Regions from separate parts of the Homo sapiens genome. Here region 2 is linked to region 1. Evidence: fine-mapped expression QTL. A gene starts in region 1. The other region holds a variant in brackets. All regions are shown on one strand. Distances are between the middles of the regions.

The links. PIP is the estimated chance that this variant, and not a neighbour inherited with it, causes the effect.
Region 2: its variant is fine-mapped to the expression of PDPR in tibial nerve (GTEx, PIP 0.98). The same link has a PIP of 0.9 or more in whole blood.

The regions. Positions count from the first base shown.
Region 1 is chr16:70,109,586-70,120,641 of GRCh38, forward strand. PDPR (pyruvate dehydrogenase phosphatase regulatory subunit) reads left to right here and starts at 4,747. Exons shown (of 19, transcript NM_017990.5): 1 at 4,747-4,855; 2 at 5,236-5,345; 3 at 10,876-11,056. The coding sequence starts at 10,908. RefSeq lists enhancers at 4,711-4,760, 5,281-6,223.
Region 2 is chr16:70,155,979-70,165,755 of GRCh38, forward strand. PDPR (pyruvate dehydrogenase phosphatase regulatory subunit) reads left to right here. Exons shown (of 19, transcript NM_017990.5): 19 at 497-6,559. The coding sequence ends at 901. LOC400541 (a long non-coding RNA gene) reads right to left here. Exons shown (of 3, transcript NR_126007.1): 2 at 2,827-2,911; 3 at 362-526. Among named protein-coding and RNA genes, the nearest start is that of CLEC18C, 13 kb to the right of the region's middle. The variant G/C (reference allele first, on the strand shown) is at 3,593.

The sequences.
Region 1 (11,056 bases):
AAGCTTAGACCTCTCTAAAGCAGAGCGGAATTTTGCAGAGTCACAGTGCTGAGTAAAAAAATTACCCAGGAATGGTGGCGGGTGCCTGTAATCCCAGCTACTCGAGAGGCTGCGGCACGAGAATCGCTAGAACTGAGGAGACAGAGGCTGCAGTGAGCTCAAATCGCTTCACCGCAGTGAGCTGAGATCGCGTCACTGCAGTGAGCTGAGATTGCGTCACTGCATTCCAGCCTGGGCGGCAGAGTGAAACCCTGTCTCAAAAAAAAAAAAGAAAGAAAGAAATCAGTAATTCCAGCACTTTGGGAGGCCAAGGTGGGTGGATCACTTGAGGTTAGGAGTTCAAGACCAACCTGGCCAACATGGAGAAACCCCATCTCTGCTAAAAATACAAAAATTAGCCAGGCATGGTGGCGTGTGCCTGTAATCCCAGCTCAGGAGGCTGAAGAAGGAGAATCGCTTGAGCCTGGGAGGCAGAGGTTGCAATGAGCTGAGTAGACAGTTTTCAAGATCTCTCAAAAGGAGGGAACCTGGGGTATACTACGGGATTTCAGTTGAAAGACTTGGAGAGCTAGGCCCTGGGAACAGAGGCAAGTGAAGTAGACAGAACCCTATCAACACTGCATCCCATAGACCTTGAGCTAATAAACACAGAAGGAATTACAGAATTAGAAAGTTACCATTTGATAACCACCATAGTAAAATCGTCTCAAGCAAGTCGAGTCAGTGGATAATAAAACTAGTGAGGCTGGGTGTGGTGGCTTATGCCTCTAATCCCAGCACTTTGGGAGGCCAAGGCAGGCGGATCACTTGAGGTCAGGAGTTCAAGACCAGCCTGGCCAACATGGTGAAACCCCATCTCTACTAAAAATACAAAAAAATTAGCCGGGCATAGTGGTGGGCGCCTGTAGCCCCAGCTACTCGGGAGGCTGAGGCAGGAGAATGGCGTGAACCCAGGAGACGGAGCTTGCAGCGAGCCGAGATGGTGCCACTGCACTCCAGCCTGGGTGACTGAGCGAGACTCCGTCTCAAAAAAAAAAAAAAGAGAGAGAAGTTCCAGGCCGGGTGTAGTGGCTCACGCCTGTAATCCCAACACTCTGGGAGGCCGAGGCGAGCGGATCACAAGGTCAGGAGATCGAGACCATCCTGGCCAACATAGTGAAACCCCATCTCTATTAAAAATACAAAATTTAGCTGGGTGTGGTGGCACACGCCTGTAATCCCAGCTGCTCAGGAGGCAGAGGCAGGAGAATCCCTTGAACCAGGGAGTTGGAGGTTGCAGTGAGCCGAGATCGCACCACAGCAGTCTAGCCTGGCGACACAGTAAGACTCCGTCTCAAAAAAAAAAAAAAAAAAGAAGTTCCTGGCTGGGCGCAGTGGATCAAGAGATCGAGACCATCCTGGCCAACATGGTGAAACCCCGTCTCTACTAAAAATACAAAAATTAGCTGGGCATGGTGGCATGTGCCTGTAGTCCCAGCTGCTCAGGAGGCTGATGCAGGAGAATGGCGTGAACCCGGGAGGCAGAGCTTGCAGTGAGCTGAGATCGCGCCACTGTACTCCAGCCTGGGTGACAAAGCAAGACTCCGTCTCACAAAAAAAAAAAAAAAAAAAAAAAAAAAAAGAGTACTGATTGCTACTCGCAACATTCTTCTCTTCCCATGGTGTGAATGAGAACATCCCTGCTTTCCACACAAACACAGGCTCTCAAGCACACGAGAAGCATGCCAGGTGTCAGGTCCTTTCTGTGAAGTCGGTTGTAGGCAGATGTCCAGTCTACTGATGGGGACAAGAACTTCAGAGGGAGGAGGGAGGCCTTCCCCACAGCCATGCCGGTGCTGCAGGGAGGTAAGATAAACGCCTGCATCTTAGCGACCTCAGATCCAAATTCATTCTTACACTGTGGTAACATAGGTATGTCAAATGTTTGTCTGTACACTGTTTATCCTGTGTGGTAGCAAATACATTTACCAAGTCACTGCAGATGAAGATTTCACAAGAGGACTTGACAAGCGTAATTAAAACGTCTGTTTAGGGCAAGACATGGTGGCTCATGCCTCTAATCCCAGCACATTGGGAGGCCAAGGCAGGTGGATCTCTTGAGGTCAGGAGTTTAATGCCAGCCTCAGCAACATAGTGAAACCCCACCTCTACCAAAAAATACAAAAGTTAGCTGGGGACGGTGGCACGCGCCTGAGGTCTCAGCTATTCGGGAGGCTGAGGTGGGAGAATCGCTAGAGCCCAGGAAGTTAAGACTGCAGTGAGCCGTGATTGCACCACTGTGCTCCAGCCTGGGTGACAGGGTGAGAGCTAATCTCAAAAAATAAAAATAGGCTGGACGCGGTGGCTCACGCCTGTAATTCCAGCACTTTGGGAGGCCTAGGTGGGCAGATCACGAGGTCAGGAGTTTGAGACCAGCCTGGCCAACATAGCGAAACCCTGTCTCTAATAAAAATACAAAAATTAGCCCAGCGTGGTGGCGCACGCCTGTACAGTCCCAGCTACTGGGGAGGCTGAGGTAGGAGAATCCCCTGAACCTGGGAGGCAGAGGTTGCAGTGAACCGAGACCACACCATTGCACTCCAGCCTGGGCAACAGAGTGAGCCTCCATCTAAAAAATAATAATAAAATAAAAACACTCAATCCCCTAGAAAAAATAGTGCATCAGTGGTTATGAGAACCTACTAAGGACAAGACCCATCTTTGACAATGAAAGGGGCCTTAGGACTTACTTCCCTTTTTTTTTTTTTTTTGAGACAGTCTCGCTCTGTCGCCTAGGCTAGAGTGCAGTGACACAATCTTGGCTCACTGCAACCTCCGCCTCCTGGGTTTAAGCAATTCTCCTGTCCCAGCCTCCCAAAGTAGCTGGGATTACAGGCATGTGCCACCACGCCCAGCTAATTTTTGTATTTTTTAGTAGAGATGGGGTTTCACCATATTGATCAGGCTGGTCTCGAACTTCTGACCTCACGTGATCCAACTGCCTTGGCCTCCCAAAGTGCTGGCATTACAGGCATGAGCCACCGCACCCAGCCTGACTTAGCATTTTGGAGTGGAGGCCGATCATGGTGATGGAGAAGGAAATCAGGGACAGATCTACACCATTTGTTTGCTATTTACTGCACGTAAACAGAATGAAATCAACACATTAAGTATTTCACTTGATTTCATCCACCATCTCCTGCAGACAACCAGGTTTCTCCCAAATTCATGTGCCTGGAAATGGCTTGAACCAAATGGTTCATGAGGAAAACCTGTGATATTTTTCATGAAATCGCCACATCTGGGCATCAGGAAAGCCTTCCCCGAGAATGTCTCAAATTGGTCAGCCGTTTTCTCTTTTTTTAGACAGGTAGGTGTCCCCAAGCATTCAATCCTAGCTAAAATATGGAAGTATTTATCTAGCACAGGAGCCTATGGCATAGTTTCAGTCCACTGTCTGGCAGACCTCATCTGGGCTGTCTTTGTGTGATTTGACTGGCCAGTAAATGGGGTATAAACTATGTAGGCTGTGGCCTGGCCTTGTGACAGAGGGGTCCCTGGAACTTGACTGCCACTCCCTAAGAGCAGAAACCGCCTCTTTCTTGTACATTGCTGGATCCCATCATCCTGCACAGTGCCTGGCTACAGGTGGCCAGCAATAAAACACAAGATTGGGGCAGGCACAGTGGCTCACGCCTGTAATCCCAGGACTTTGGGAGGCTGAGATGGAAGGATCACTTGAGGCCAGGAGTTCAGGCCCAGCCTAGGCAACATAGTGAGCCTATCTCTACAAAAAAAAAATTTTTTTTAAATTAATAAAACACAAGATTGGTTTGTGTGGTGAGACAGTATTGAATCCAACAAACGGGAACTGGATAGTGTGGCCCAAGATGCAATGGTGGCTGCAGCATGAGACCCTTATGCATATAATATTCAGTGGAAGAGGTGCCAGGCACTGTTCTGGGTGCTGAGAATAAAGCTATGCATAAGACTAAGGTTCTGTCGACAGAGATCGTGTCACACCAGTGGAAAAGACAGTCATCAAACTTATATCCTTGAGTCAGTGATGAGTTCTAGAAGGAAAGAAAAGGCTGATGTGACAGTGAGGAAGGGATGAGTGGAGACTTCTCTGAGACTTCAGTGATTCCTCTTCCTCTGAGCTGAGCCAAGCTGAGAAGCTGAGAAGAGTAAGATAGGGCCGGGAACTCAGGTCCGTTAGTCCGTCCTCCGAGGTGGGGCGGGCCAGCAGAATGGATTTCCGATCTACTCTGTGAGAGCCTCGCCCAAGAAAGCCCAGAGCCACTTCCAAGATCCGCGCTCCCACGGCGATGAGAAGCGTTTTCCCCCGGGACTGCTTGGCTTAGGACTGGGGACCCACTGGCTTTGGAGTAAGCCCTGGCACGGGCCTCGAGGGAAGAAAGAACTCCCGCGCTCCCCACACTCCACAGGGCCTGCGATCATCTCAGATGTTCCGGTTCCACGTGCAGAAACCCCGCCGGTCCGAGGCCCCGGTTCTAAAACGGCCCTAAGAGTCAAGGCTTCCACAGCTCGCCTCTGAGGGTGGCAAAGAGGCCGCGGGGGCGGTGCCTCGCGAGACCCAAACAAGCCCACGTGGCAGGGGCGGGGCTCCGCGAAGGCGTCACGGCGCGCTCGTGCGCTGCTGAGGTCACGCGCCGGCAGTACCCTTGCCCGGGGGCCGTAAAGCGCGGAAGGTCGCGGTCTCGGCTTCCCCGGAACTTTTTGCTCGCTTCGCCCCGCCCCCTTCCCATCCCCGAACCCCGCTTTCCGGCCCGCGGCGACCCCAGGCAACTGTTGTGGCTGCCGCATTGCTCCCGCCGGGCTGTAGCTGAGCGCGGAGCCCGTGGGGACCGGTGAGGTAAGGAGATAGCTTCGGGGCAACTCTGGCCTCCCCGTCCGCGCGGGCCTAAGCGCCCCGGGACCCCTGGGTTCCCCTCTTTCTCCTTTGGTTTCGCCCGGGGGTGGTCCCCGCTAGCTCACGCTTCCAGTGGGTTCCGCCTGGCCTCTCGCGAAGTCGCGTCCGGGCGCCAGTACTCGTCCCCGTAAGGTTGTCCGCTCGTGCCTTGGCTTGTGTTCTCGGCTACCCCTGGGCGTGCGCACCGCTCCTCCAGGAGCCTGCACTTCAGCCCCGATGCCAGGGCGGCCGGGGTGACCTCGGGCTCCCCCGTCTCGGGCTTGCACACCCCTGCGGCGCAGAGCCAACTCCAGCTTGTCTAGCCCGGTCCTCCATCCCTGCAGATGGAACTGTTTTCCCGCGTTGAGACGTGCGGTCCGCTTGTGCTTTTAGAACTAAAGACTGCTGCAGAGTCCGGAGGAAGAAGTCACCTAGAAAAATCTGGGACAGGGCAGTAAGCTTCCTTCTTAATGTTTGACCTTTGGGGGCCGATGTGTGATACCTCGGATTTGAATCAAGAATCTCCAAGCCCATTTTCCGCATGCATGTAAACGTGATGTACCGGGATGGGGTCTGGTGGTGGAGGAGGAGCCAGCCTGACGGATAAGCTTTTCCAGTGGCAGGGACTTGTGTTAATTTCTTTTTTCTTTTTTTTTCTTTTTTCCGAGACAGAGTTTCACTCTGTCGCCCAGGCGGGAGTGCAGTGGCGCGATCTCGGCTCACTGCAACCTCTGCCTCCTGGGTTCAAGCAATTCTCCTGCCTCAGCCTCCCAAGTAGCTGGGAATACAGGTGTGCGCCACCACGCCCGGCTAATTTTTGTGTTTTTAGTAGAGACGGGGTTTCACTATGTTGGCCAGGCTGGTCTCGAACTCCTGACCTCGTGATTCTCCCGCCTCAGCCTCCCAAAGTGCTGGGATTACAGGCGTGAGCCACTGCGCTCGGCCAACTTGTGTTAATTTCTTAAACTTGCGTGATCACCTGGTGTACTTGTTGAAAAATACAGCTCCCTGGAGTGGCAGGATCAGAATCTGCCGAGGTGGACCGTGGGAATCTGTCATTTTTAAACAAGTGTCCCAGGTGGTTCTTTTGCTGAGGCAAGTGTGGGAAATGTTGTGTGAACCCACGCTCATCCAGTCTTCCTTGTGACCGGCAGTCCACTGTGCGCAACGCTGCAGCCATACAGAGGGACAACTCGAAGTTAGAACTAGCACCTTGGTCTTGTTGGAATAAGCAGATCTGAGTAGAGCCAGCTGCAGTCTTATGGTTGTTTAGCAGAAGTTATTCTTCTTAGCAGAGAATATTATACGGTCATTTTCCAGAACTGTAAAAACTCTATCATTTGTTTTAAACCAGATGATGTGCTTCATTTCTGTCTTTGACGTCTTCAGTTTCTTCTCCCCTGGCTTTACCTCCTTTGTTATCAGTTTGTGCTTTGGTTTTGCTGCCAACCTTATAGGTTTAGGTTTGGCGGCAAAGGCACTAGACTCTGGTGCCTTCTTTTCCTTCGTTGTCTTAAGCCCTTCTTTTCCTCTGCCCTCATGCCCTCACCACTTCACTCTTTTGAAGGTCATAATGAACACAAGGTCAGAGATCCCTTTTTTGGCGCCAAGCACCCTGGGCTTTTTTGAGATGGAGTCTCACTGTGTCACCCAGGCAGTGGCGCGAATCTGCCCACTGCAGCCTCCATCTCCCTGGTTGAAGCAATTTTCCTGTCTCAGCCTCCTGAGTAGCTGGGACTACAGGTGCAAGCCACGACACCTGGCTAATTTTTCTGTTTTTAGTAGAGACGGGGTTTCACCATGCTGATCAGGCTGGTCTCAAACTCCTGACCTCAAATAATCCACCCACCTTGGCCTCCCAAAGTGCTAGGATTACAGGTGTGAGCCCCTGCGCCTGGCCTTTCTTTGTTTTGTTTTGTTTAAGACAGAGTCTCACTGTGTCACCCAGGCAGGAGTGCAGTAGCATAATCTCGGCTCACTGCAACCTCTGTCTCCCAGGCTCAAGCGATCCTCCTACCTCAGGAGTTCAGGACCAGCCTGGGCAACATAGTGAGCCCCTCTCTACAAAAAAAAAAAAAAAATTAAAAAAATTAATAAAACACAAGATTGGCCTGTGTGGTGAGAGAGTATTGAATCCAACAAACGGGAACTGGTTAGTGAGGCCCAAGATGCAATGGTGGCCGCACCATGAGTACCTGGGACCACAGGTGCGTGCCACCACACCCAGCTAATTTTTTGTATCTTTGGTAGAGACGGGGTTTCACCATGTTTGCCAGGCTGGTCTCCAACTTCCGACCTCAAATGATCTACCCGCCTCGGCCTCCCAAAGTGCTGAGATAACAGGCGTGAGACATGGCGCCCGGCCTAAAGTTTTTTTTTTAATTCCACCTTAAAACTCATCTGTTACTGTGTTTGTTCTGCCACCTTTGCAATTCCCTTTCTCTGTTAGGGGAATGTGCTTAATGGTTCAGTCCTCACAGCTGTCCTTTCCTTACCATCTGCTTTTATTTGAAAGGTAGCGTGGAGTCATGATTAAATAGCCGGCCACTAATGCCAAATTGGCAGGGTTCTGCTACTCAACAGTTTGGTAGGACCTTGGGTGAGTCACTTCCACTTATCTGTGCCTGTTTCCTCAAGTGTAGAATAGAAATGCTAGTATCTACCTCATAAGGTTGTGAGGATTAAATTAGTTATATATATAGGCAGTATCTGGTGCATTGTAACTACTTATAAAAATATTAGCTTTAAAAATTATTTGCCGGTCACAGTGGCTCATGCCTGTAATCCCAGCACTTTGGGAGGCCAAGGCAGGCGGATCACGAGGTCGGGAGATTGAGACCATCCTGGCTAACATGGTGAAACCCCGTCTCTCCTAAAAATTAAAAAAAAAAATTAGCCAGGCATGGTGGTGGGTGCCTGTAGTCCCAGCTACTCAGGAGGCTGAGGCAGGAGAATGGCATCAACCCAGGAGGCAGAGCTTGCAGTGAGCTGAGATCGCACCACTGCACTCCAGCCTGGGCGACAGAGCGAGACTCCATCTCAAAAAAAATAAATAAGATGTCAAAGAGGCTGTGACCTGAGGAGATTACCTGTATTTGGGGGAGAGGTGGCAGGAACCATGCCAGGAGGGAACAGCATGCACAGAACCTGGAGCCGAATAGAACACTCACGCCTCACCTGATATGTTTGACGAATTACAGGTTGTTCAGTCTGGTTTGGTCAGAGTGTGAGGAAAGGAGAAATGAGACCACAGATAAGAACCAGAGTGTGAAGGATCTTGCACTTGATATGAAAAGAGTTTTGCCTTTTTCCTGAGGGCATCAGAAAGTCATTAAGGTGGGTGTGGTGGTTCACGCCTATAATCCCAGCACTTTGGGAGGCCAAGGCCAGTGGATCACCTGAGGTCAGGAGTTCAAGACCAGCCTAATCAACATGGTGAAACCCTGTCTGTACTAAAAATACAAAAAGTAACTGGGCGTGGTGGCGCGTGCTTGTAGTTCCAGCTGTTCAGGAGGCCGAGGCAGGAGAATTGCTTGAACCTGGGATGCAGAGGTTGCAGTGAGCCGAGATCACACCGCTGCACTCCCAGCTGGGCGACAGAGTGAGACTCTGTCTCAAAAAAAAAAAAAAAATTGCTGAGGAAAAGCAGCAAAAAGGGAGGGAAACGTTGCAGGTACATGAAAGAGAGATAGCAGTTGATGGAGCTAGGGTCAAGAGAAGAGAGGAGGAAGTGGGATCCAGGGCCCTTGGGGGAGATTAACTTTCCAGTGGATAAAAGAAGGAAGGAAGAGATGGTTGCAGATGCAAGTGGGTCTATAGGAAGGGTTTCAGGGAATGAGATGAGCCAGGTTATCTGCTTAGAATGAGGGAAGAAAGGAGGTGAAATTGAAGGTTGAGAGAGGAATAGCTGGGCTCTGAACCTGAATACAGACAGAGGTCTGCCTGTGGCTTAACATGTGCTAGCCTAAGCCACCAAGGAGCAGGACAGTTTTCAAGTATAACCGAGTGGTCACGGGTCAGAAGCCAGGAGGTTGACAGTGAGGTCAATGGGACGGGGCTGGCCATTTGGCAGCAGCAGTTCCCCAGGAGAGCTGTGTTGCCATTGGGACAGAGGGTAGAGAGAATGTCAGCAAAGGGGTGGGTGTTTACCTTTGGGAAAGGTATTCTGGAGGGTGCAGTAGAGGGGCTTGAAGGAGAGGAAAGCAAAGAGAGCTTGGGCCACGGGAAATAAATTGGTCACGTGGAGATGAGATTATGGAAAGACTAGCCGGGTAGAGAAGCTTCTGTTTTGAGATGGTGCTTAACAGGGACCAGGGATGAGAGGCATGGTGGCAACCACAAGGTGGCCAAGACAATTTGTCTCCAGTTGGATGGGATGTCTGCCTGGACACAGTCTGTGCTTGCATTGGTTGCAATTCTGAGAGTCATCTCTGATGGATGGACATAGATACCTTGGCCTTGGACAATTTGTGCTGACTGTGGAGCATCTGTGGGTCCTGTGGCTGGCAGTGGAGGCGGTAAGGAGATGACTAGCAGTGAGCTACCCTAAGGCCCCCTTGTCTACCGCCTCTCGTCTCAAAGTCCTCATCCTCCTGTACACATGACTGCATGGACAGCCAGTAGGTGCTTTCTTCTTCAGTTTCTTGAAACTTGAACAGTCATCTGTTTTGCTGATAGATTAAGTTTGTTAAAACCCTGCCTTGTCCAAGGGCAGTGGTTCATGCCTGTAATCTCAACACTTTGGGAGACCAAGGTGGGAGGATCACTTGAGCCTAGGAAGTCAACTCTGTTTTTCTTATAATTCTACCATCCGCTCTCCACCATGGAGCCAGACTGACCTTTGGAAAACATCCCCCAACCCCCCACCGCCAAAAAAAACAAAGAAAAGAAAAACATCCCAGATCATTTCATTCCCCTGCTAGTGATACTCCCGCATGAGTGATTTTCCTTTGTACTTTGAATAAAATTCCAACTCCTGCTGATGGCACCCAAGGGCTGTGTGTAACTGGCTTCCGCCTGCCTCTCCAGCATTGTCTTAGATCATCTCCCCACACTCCCCGTGTCGTGTACATGCCGGCCTCCTTTTTGTTCTTGGTCTGTCTTACCTCAGGGCTTTTGCACATGCTCGTCTCAGTGTCTGCCAAATGTATAGCTCGTTCCTTATCCTTCAGGTCTGTTTCCAAATGTCACTTCCTTGGAGGCTGTTTCTGACCATCCTGTTTTAAATATGCCCCTAGTTACTCTATCATGTTAGCTTTATTTACTGTTTTATTTGTATGTTTATTTGTATATTGATTGGTGTTCTCCTCATTCACACACGCAAACTCTCAAATGTAAATTTCATAAAGACAGGGACTTCCCCATTCTTGTTCACTGCTAGCAGAATATCTGAAACTCAGAATGCCCTCAAATATTTCTTTTTTTGTTTTTTTTTTGTTTGTTTGTTTGTTTTTTTTTTGAGACGGAGTCTCGCTCTGTCGCCCAGGCTGGAGTGCGGTGGCGCGATCTCTGCTCGCTGCAGCCTCCGCCTCCCGGGTTCAAGCAATTCTCCTGCCTCAGCCTCCTGAGTAGCTGGGATTACAGGCACCTGCCACCATGCCCAGCTAATTTTTGTGTTTTTAGTAGAGACAGGGTTTCACCATGTTGGTAAGACTGGTCTCGAACCCCTGACCTCGTTATCCACTCGCCGCGGCCTCCCAAAGTGCTGGGATTACAGGTGTGAGCCACTGCGCCCAGCCTAAGTTTTTGAATTTTTAGTAGAGACGGGGTTTCACTGTGTTAGCCAGGATGGTCTCGATCTCCTGACCTCGTGATCCGCCCGCCTTGGCCTCCCAGAGTGCTGGGATTACAGGTGTGAGGCACCATGCCCAGCCACCCTCAAATATTTGCTGAATGAATGGCTATCGTTCTTTGTCAAATCCCTTTCTCATTAATCCCATGCACTGAGTAGAATGGCATGAAATATGTTTGGTTTCTCTGTCTAGTTTGAGTTCCTGAGATCTAGTTGGTGAGAGACATGATGTTCTACCGGTTGCTGTCGATTGTTGGAAGACAAAGAGCCAGCCCAGGATGGCAGAACTGGTCCTCTGCAAGAAACAGCACGTCAGCTGCCGAGGCGCGTTCCATGGCCCTGCCCACCCAGGCACAGGTGGTCATCTGTGGAGG
Region 2 (9,777 bases), 46 kb after region 1:
TCCCAGGTTCAAGTGATTTTCCTGTCTCAGCCTCCCAAGTAGCTAGAACTATAGGCACACTCCACCACACCCAGCTTATTTTTGTATTTTTAGTAGAGATGAGGTTTGCCTCATCTCTGTTCAAGGCGTGAGCCACCACGACTGGCCAATATAAAAACATTTTTCTAAAGTACTGGACTGATAAGGTATTTTATTAAGTGAGTGAGTTTTCTTCCTAAACGTTTTTGTTCTATCTGGTCTTGTGACTTTATGTTTATAAAATAGGAAACAAAATGCGTACCTCTGTTGTTACAAAAATTACCGCGGCGTCTTTTATATTTCACATGCAGTTTTTCACATGGTAGAAATCGCACAGTTTCCCAAAAGCTGGCAGGGTTGTGGGAGGAGGCGGCTGTGCCCCATTGCAGTGACACCAGGGGACCCTTCCCACGGTGCTGCTCTCTGTGCCGAGGGTCTGAGTGTCGCTGGATGACTCGGCGTTTCCTTTCTTTCTTAGGGCATGGATTTCATTGGTCGCGACGCCCTCCTGCAGCAGAAGCAGAATGGAGTGTATAAACGCCTCACCATGTTCATCCTGGACGACCATGATTCAGACCTAGACCTTTGGCCTTGGTGGGGAGAGCCCATTTACCGGAATGGGCAGTATGTTGGCAAGACCACCAGCAGTGCCTACAGCTACAGCCTGGAGCGCCACGTTTGCCTGGGCTTTGTGCACAATTTTTCTGAGGACACGGGGGAAGAGCAAGTGGTGACAGCAGATTTCATCAACCGGGGAGAGTATGAGATTGACATCGCGGGATACCGCTTCCAGGCCAAGGCCAAGCTCTACCCTGTCGCCTCCCTCTTCACCCAGAAGCGCCGAAAGGATGACATGGAGCTGAGTGACTTACATGGGAAGTGATGCCACCAGGGCAGCCTCACCTCCTCCCCATCATCTTGTCCTAGAGTGGGCGTCACCTTGGAGCTTCTCTTCCTTCCGCCTCTGTTCCTCTTCTGGAGCCTTTGCCTCCCATCTCTTATCTCCTTGATATAATTTTGAACTTGACCTACTTTAAACTTTTTTGCTCTGCAGCCTTCCTTGCCCTTCCACCTCCTCCTCCTAATATTCACTCTGGGCTCTTCTTCCCTTCCCACCCCTCACTCAGCTTCTCGTGGTGGCAGGAGGTATGTCTGACAGGACAGAAGCAAGCTCCACTGTGGACATGAGTGATGGTGACAGCTGCTTTCAAATTCTGCATCTCAAGGCAGGGCAAGCCGGGGTGGTGCAGGTCTCAGGGCACGAGTCCCTCTCCCTTGGGTTCCATTTTCTTGGAGCAGCCTATTAGTTCTGGTGGGGTTGCCGTGTGTCGGATGCAGCCCTGAGGGGCAGCTCGTGCCTGCAGCCCGGCAGCTCGTTCTCCTGTTCTGCTGTGCTGTGGGCTGGCACTCGATACCTCTGGCAAGAGGATGATTATCTACCTCACTGATAAGAGGCATCGCATGGACGTTCTCTGGTCTGTAGTGGAGACAAGCAGTTAACCTAGCACCATCCTCATCCTCCCTGCAGAAGCCATTAGCAGACCTTTGGGCCAGGGCAGCCTCCCTATAATTTTCTTCATCTCTTGCTAATCTCTATAATAAGGTTGCTTTTTCTTTCTTAGTTGAGTAAACAAGTAAGCCACAGTGTTTGAAAGGGAAAAACCATATTGCCTTGTGTGTTGCTTTTCCCAGTCAAAAGGGTCTGACCTTAGAAAGTCCCCACCAGTGATGCTGAGTGTTCTGCTATGGAAACAATGCTGCTTTTCTCTCAGCTGTCCAAAGTTCAGCCGTTCCTCCTTCCCCTTCTCCCAGTGCGTTTGACTTTGTCAGGTCAGCCTCACTTGTCCCTTTCACAGTTGGCCCATAAAGTCATGTTTCTCTCCCTTTAGAATAGGGAGGGGAAGGGATCAGGTGTGTTGTCCTGGGCCTTTCAACCTTGCGGGCTGTGCTGAGTTCCAGAGAGCTGCCGGAATTCCAGGTTTGACTCTCCAGCACAGAGCAGAGCTACACAGAGGTGACCCACGTTAGTCCACTGAGAGTTCTGAGTCCAAAGGGTGTACGTTGCATAAGGCTAGAGACCGCTTTTCCTCCTTTCCCCCCAGGCTCTTTGTTTCCCTCCACCCACCCTTCCATATCCTCTGGAGCAGGAGACAATGTGGGTGCCCAGAAGTGCCCTGCGCTTTCAGGCAGTGTCTCTGTTTTCCCAAGGTGAAACTTAGATATCATGGACTGTTGTCCAGCCTCAATGCTTCATTTTCCCCTTGCATATCAACTGCCCTAATCTGACTTTTTTTAAGTGCAAATAAACTGCTATAAGACATTTTGGTTAGTAAAACTCTAGCCTTTGGCGTGTTGGTATCTTGGAAGCATTAGCTCTGATAGGTCTATAAGTGTATTAAGGGACATCCTTCCATTTCATTAGAGCAGCTTAAAATGCTCAGGTGTCTGCCTTCTCTGGTGTTTCTTTGGGATCTCTGTTTACCCACTTACGCTGGCTCCTTCTAGACATTTCTTGCCACTTCCCCAACTAGACCACTCCTAGTGATTACTGACTTTAGTGCCTAAACCTTTTTGGAAGGTTCTGGTTGGCTTGTTAGAGGAGCATATGATTAGAATTCTGTTTGGGGGTCTAGTTGTCTTGGAGCAAGTATGTACTTAACTAGCCGAGAGATGCTGCCTCTAGGCAGAGAGGAGGAGAGGTGTTGCCGGCTGGAGGGCCAACCAGTGAACACCAGCTGTGAAGGCCTTGGGAGAGGAGGAACAGGCCCTTGGGCAGATGCAGGCATTACCAGCAGGGAGCAGACTTACCTCCGAAGATGGAGACAGGTGACTGAGAGCTGCAGGCCTCCTCTGCTCTTCCAAACACGTAGCATTTGCACCCCTCCAAAGCCATCTTTGTAAAGGAAAACGTATTTGTAATTGAATCCAGAAGAATTTAGTTACACATAGACATAACTCTTCAACCTTAACTATGGCAATACATTTGTGCTTTAACTGTTACATAGCAGTATCACCACTTACCAGGATCCAAATCGAAATAATAAAAGCTGTCTCCATAGTTTAAAATCGAATAGTGCCATCATCACAGTATATTAGTCAAATAGAAGCTTCATCAGAAATGTATCCCACATAGAGTTTTAAGACTTGGATTCTCTTCTGCCCTTGTTAATCTCCAACTAATTACTACAGATTGACACGTTTTTAATTAGCTGTCCTTTGTAAGAAGTCAGGAAATCTGATGCTGTGTCCAAAATTATGCACTGTTTGTTGAAGTAGAACCAGAAATCCTGACCTCCTGTTAAATGACATCAGTTTCCCCCTCTGAGCAACAGACTGCTTGTCTTGCTAGGAGAGGAGGATGGGGGGCTGAGCACTCAGGCTGTCCATTGAAACCCCTTGTCCATGAATAGGGTCATACTCCTAAGACTGATGGGGTGTTGATCTTCTAGGACATCACTTGTTTATTCAGTGCCCCAAACACAGATTTCTCTTCTAGCACTTTAGAGTTGATCCTTGAAGTCTCTCCTGGTTCATTCAAATACAAGCTGTGTGAGTCTGGTGGTTTTCTGTGATT[G/C]GTCTAATGTGAGCTCTTTGAACAGACAGATCTGACAGTGAATGACTCTCCCCTGCTTCTGGCATAACTGCTTTGCCTCTGTCTAGTGTCCAAGCATCTTAGCTGTTCAAGAGGAGAGGGCAGCATAACTTCCTGACCACCGGTGTCAGATATCAGAGCATTCTGGACTCCTGAGAGGCAGTGGCCTCTTGAGTGAACAGGGGAGGCCAGTAGATGCCCCAGATCCAGAGCCGTGGCTGCAAATCCAGCAGGAATAAGGAGGGACAACCACAGCCTCCTCATCCATGTGTCATTTCCAAGGGTTTGCCTTGTGTCTCAGCTCATTCTGGGCAGCACGTTTGTCTTCTGTCCCTAGAGATTTGAAGGATTTTGGACTCTTGTGAATGGGTGACTGGACTTGGCTTTACAGAGTTGGGTGCTTTTTTCTCTCTGCAATTACCTGTCATAGCATTTTGTGCTCACCACGAAGGATGGTCTCTGCCTTCTCTTGTCGGTGTATGCCATCTGAACCTAGGAACACAAAGTATATTGGCCTCAAACGGAGACCCAGGGTTGCCAGTTTTCCGTGGGCCTTCCCCTCCCTTGAAATGTCTTTAATTACCTCCCCTTCATCGTCAGGCCACGTGTGACTTCTGTTCTTAGCACTGCCAGGGTCATTGACTTCCATCTAAGCTTGCATCAGGAAGATGTTCCTTCTGTGATCATTGGTACTGAAGCCAGAAAAGCTCTCATTCAGGAACTCTGAAGAGCAAAAAGGGACAAACACTAACTGCTGAGCTGGGCCATTTGATCTCCTTTCACCTTGCATTGCTGTCACAGCACCTTGTATGATGGCAGGACAGGCTCCAGCAGAGAGAACTGCACAGTGACCACTGTATTTTTCACGCTCTTCCAGGGATCCCTGTCCCCCGACATTGAAGAGATCTCATTCAGGCCAGAGACACAGAGACCACATAGCCCAGTGATTAAACCCCGGTTTCACTCTGGCCCCAGGAGTGGAGCCTGGCCACTCCTGTTTGGTTCTCACTGGGAGGCCCACTGGCCTTGGATCATCTCCTCATGCACACCCGGAGTTTTACCTGCTTGCTTGCTTTCCTGGACTGCTGTTTGCAAGAAAGTAACTAAAACATGAAAAGTAAACCTCCAGCTTCCACAGTATATTACCTGCCGTTGCATGCATTTGAAAGTTAGCCTCCTCCCTTGCCACCGTCTTGGTGGCAGTAGCGATGCAAGAATGATGGGAGCTTTCCGAGAGCGTTCAGTGTTTCACTGAAGACAGGACCCATAGCCTTCATTTCTGGCTCTGTGTCTCCTCTGGCATATGGACACATTTCCTGGCATTTGCCTGAGTCTACACCACTTTTTGAGAACCTGAAATAGAAGGGAATCTTCTGTGGCCCACAGTCTCCATATTGGCACTAGAAGACTGGCCTGGCGGAGGAATTTGCGTTGGCTTGCTTTCAGGGGTTAGCTACAAGATTCAGCTTTATATCTCTGTTGCTTCTTGGCCAGTGTAGTCAATAAGGGTCTTCTTTAACATCTAAGATAGAGGTTTGGTTGGCCGGGCGTGGTCGCTTACTCCTGTAATCCCAGCACTTTGGGAGGCCCAGTGAGGTGGGAGAATTGCTTGAACCCAGGAGGCAGAGGTTGCAGTGAGCTGAGATTGCACCACTGCACTCCAGCCTGGGTAACAGAGTGAGACTCTTGTCTCAAAAAAAAAAAAAAAAAAATCTAAGATAGAGGTTTGGTCAACAGTGCTTAATAATAAATAAGAACCTCCTGCCATTCTAATTTTCCTGCTGCACCCCATCCCCCACACACCCCTCACGAACATTGATATAAGCAGTATTAACACAGTATAAAGAATGTTCACCTTGCATATGTCATTTCAGGCACATGGATTCAGGAGAAGCACAGTTGAGTGGAAGAAATGGTAGACTTGTGAGGCTTGCCCCAGGCCTTGTGTACACGCAATAAGTGGTGAGCCATGGGTCTCTCCGTCAGCGCCTCCCTCCCCGCCACCACTTCAGGCCAACAATTTAAGGTGCTGAGTTGTAAGGCTCCTCCATTGTCAGTACAGGGCTCGCCTTTGTAGCCCTGATCACTACCAGTACACTTTTCAAGACAACTGAGTATTTTTGTATGCCTTTGCCTTCCCTTTGTCCATGAAACATGAAGAGTTGTTTATGGTTCTTGACTTCTCTGAGCAGAGTGTCTGCATCTCTTGGAGAGTTACACATTTCTTCATGAGCCATTTTTCTCATTCTTAGATGCACCTGTTTTTATCCTTTGCAGACCATCTTCTGCCTTCTTATTTTCCTGTCTGTCAAAGACAGAAATTACAGGAGATAGGGAGGGTTTTTTAGCATCTCTTTCAAAAGATGTATGTCAGAATTTCCTTTGCACACCAAGAACTGGAGCTTAGAGCCCCACTATTCTCTAAGCCAGGTTCTAGTGCCTTACACTCCAGAATGTCAGATGGTGGGTGCAGATTGGAAGAAAGAGAAAAGTTCATCTCGGTGTGTGGGTTCCCATCCGCCCCACATAGCCTCTCCTTCTTCGGAACAATGGGCGTGGGGTAGAAAGCTCTTTCAGTGAAGGGTGTTCTAGCAGCTCAGTTAACACTTTACTCTCCAGTCAACACTTGGGACATATAAAAATGCCATTGTAACTACTGTAGAGTCCTGTGACTCATCGTTTGTGTTTGTCAATTTGCAGTTCAGCTTAGCCCTTCCCTGTTCCTGTGTAGTTACAATCTGGCCCTGAAGACATCCGAGGCACTTCAGTAAGTGGGATCTTTTCTAGAGATCCTGGGTGACTTTGGGTGCACAGGGTGACCGAGCATTTCTGCCCCTGTGAATGTGGCACTAACACTGTGCACTGTCTCCACCAAGCAAGGTTTCCACTGAGTTTCTTCTCATGTTACTGGGTTTGTAAATGAATAAACACATTTTAACTACTCTTGCACGGCTGCTTGTGAAATGTTCTTCATCTGTAGTGACTTAAATGTGTTTGCCACCACAAAGCATAAACAGCGTGCAGAGGAGAGTGTGTACCTCCCTGTGTGTACCAGTGTGAGGGAGGATTTGGGGACGGGGGTAGAGAAGATGTAGGTGTTTATCTTACCCTCCCTGCAGCGCTGGAGTGGCTGGGGGTAAAAGCTTCCCGCCTCCTGAAATTCCGACCGGCCTTCTGCCTACAGCTGACCTCAGGAGGAACCTGCCACCTGATGTTCCACACGGGCACGTGTGCACTCAGGTTTGTGTGGAAAGCAAGGGGGGTCGTGTTCTCACCCTGTGGAAACAACCCTGAGAGAAACAACCAGTGCTCTTTTTCTACACCAGCTTCCATCCACAAGTTGGTCCCTGGACTTGACCTGTTCACTAATTTTTTTTTTTGAGGCAGAGTCTTGCTCTTTTGCCCAGGCTGGAGTACAGTGGTGTGATCTTGGCTTACTGCAACCTCCACTCCCAGGTTCAAGTGATTTCCTGCCTTAGCCTCCAGAGTAGCTGGGATTACAGGCACGCGCCACCATGCCCAGCTAATTTTTGTATTTTCGTAGAGACGGGGTTTCGCCAGGTTGGCCAGGCTGGTCTCAAACCCCCAACCTCAAGTGATCCACCCACCTTGGCCTCCCAAAGTGCTGGGATTACAGGCGTGAGCCACTGTGCCTGGCCCAAAGTAATTTTTGAGTAGTTTTTTTTTTTTTAAGTATTTGTACTTTTGAGAATCTCATAGGTTAACATGTTTACAACAATCTCTTCATCTTGTCTTCTAAATCAGCCCCTTCTATTCCAGTTCCAGGAATAGTCAACCACGCCAGAAACCTGGGACTCACCTGGTCTCCCCACTCGCCTCTCCCTACACCTCCCGCTCATTACCCAGCCTCACAGGGCTGTCTCCTCAGTGCCTCTCCTCTGTTCGGACCTCACTGTCCCCACCACTGCTGCTGTGGCAGAGAGGGTTGTCAGCCCTGACTTCGAGAACAATCTCTTACTGATTTTCCTGCTTCTCATGTCATCCCCCCTCCCTCTGCAGGGTTGTCTTTGTAAAACAGGGGAGGTCAATTTACTCACTGCCTTGAAACCCTCAAGGGACTCCCCTTTGTCGTGAGACAAAGCTCTCAGTCCTTAGCCTGGCCAGCCAGGGTCTCCAGGGTGTGGCAGGCCACGCTGCCCCAGGGCTCCGGCCTGCGCTGCGTGTGATGTGGGTCCTGCAGCCGAGTGCGTGCTCGCCATCCACAGCTGGATCTCACCTCGAATCCTGCTTTCCAGTCACACTGAGAGGTCTCCCACTCCCATATTTGCTCACTAAAATGCCTCCTGGCAGCCCTCCCCTGTGCTTGTGGAAAGTCGCAAATTGAGGATCACATGGACCCCCACTCCCCCAAGTTGTCCTGACAGAGACCTCCTGTCTTTCATTTGATTGATTGATTGAGACGGAGTTTTGTTCTTCTTGCTTAGGCTGCTGGAGTGCAGTGGCGAGATCTCGGCTCACCACAACCTCCGCCTCCCAGGTTCAAGCAATTCTGCCTCAGCCTCCTGAGTAGCTGGGATAACAGGCATGCGCCACCATGCCTGGCTAATTTTGTATTTTTAGTAGAGACGAGGTTTCACTATGGTGGTCATTGGTCAGGCTGGTCTCGAACTCCTGACCTCAGGTGATCAACCCACCTCAGCCTCCCAAAGTGCTGGGATTACAGGTGTGAGCCACAGTGCCTGGCCCCTCCTGTCTTTCAAAAGCTCTGCCCAAGACCACCATCATCCCACAGTGGAGCCTTTCCTTCCCCAAGAGAATGGCCCCTTTGGGGTCCTCACACACCCGTTTCTGATGTGTCTTTATTTGGTTATCTGCCCTGCTCCTTCTGTAAGTCCCTCGGAGAAAGACTCGAATTCTCCCAAACTCCAACACCTCACATGGTGTTTGGTGTTTAACAGATGATTAAATGAATGGGCAAAAAGTGGAGGGCAAAATCTTTAAAATGTCTTTTAAGATTTAAGGATTTTAGGCCAGGTGCGGTGGCTCACACCTGTAATCCCAGCACTTTGGAATGCCGAGGCGGGCGGATCACCTGAGGTTGGGAATTCGAGACCAGCCTGACCAACATGGAGAAACCTTGTCTCTACTAAAAATACAAAATTAGGCGTGGTAGCGCATGCCTATAATCCCAGCTTCGCGGGAGGCTGAGGCAGGACAATCGCTTGAACTCAGGAGGTGGAGGTTGCAGTGAGCCGAGATCACGCCATTGCACTCCAGCCTGGGCAACAAGAGCGAAACTCTGTCTCAAAAAGAAAAAAAGATTTAAGGATTTTAAATGTTTGATTTTTTTTTCTTGTTGAGATAGAGTCTTGCTTTGTCGCCAGGCTGGAGTGTAGTGGCGTGATCTCGGCTCACTGCAACCTCTGACTCCCTGGTTCAAGGGATTCTCCCACCTCAGCCTCCCGAGTAGCTGGGATTACAGGCACACGCCACCACGCCCAGCTAATTTTTTGTATTTTTAGTAGATACCGGGTTTCACCATGTTGACCAGCATGGTCTCGATCTCCTGACCTTATGATCTGCCCACCTCAGCCTCCCAAAGTGCTGGGATTACAGGCGTGAGCCACCGCGCCCGGCCTGAAAATTTTTAAATGATTGTTTGCCGACTTTACAACAGGACGATGTTGTTGTTCGCAGGCCAGTAGGTGGCGCTGTGGCACGTGATCTGAGCCTCCTGGATTCACACAACTGTTCATGTGGAGAACCCAGTGCCGGGACCCATTAGCACCCCAGTCAGGCTATGCGTCTCCCTCCCAAGGGTGCTCACCTGGTGTGGCCTTCATGGCACAGGGGGAGTGAGATGAGGCTCCTTTAGTACACCCTCCCCTGAGAAGAGCGACGTGTGCTTACCCTCCAGTGGCTTGTTCTCATGAAAGGCTCCACAGTTAGGGACCTTCAGATGCTTAGATCTGGGGTGTCACCTGACTCAAGCAGCTCAGAATCCCAGATTGTTGTGGTGGGTCAAGGGCATGGGGCTTTGGGTTTACTGGCCTGGGTCTGAATGCCAGCATTGCCTCTTCCTTGGTGTATAGGACCTTGGGTGGTTACTTTTCCTAGGCCTCTGTTTACTTGTTTTAAAATGGACAGTGATGCCTACTTTATAGGGTTGTTATGAAACTCAACTAATGAATATAAAATACTCGACC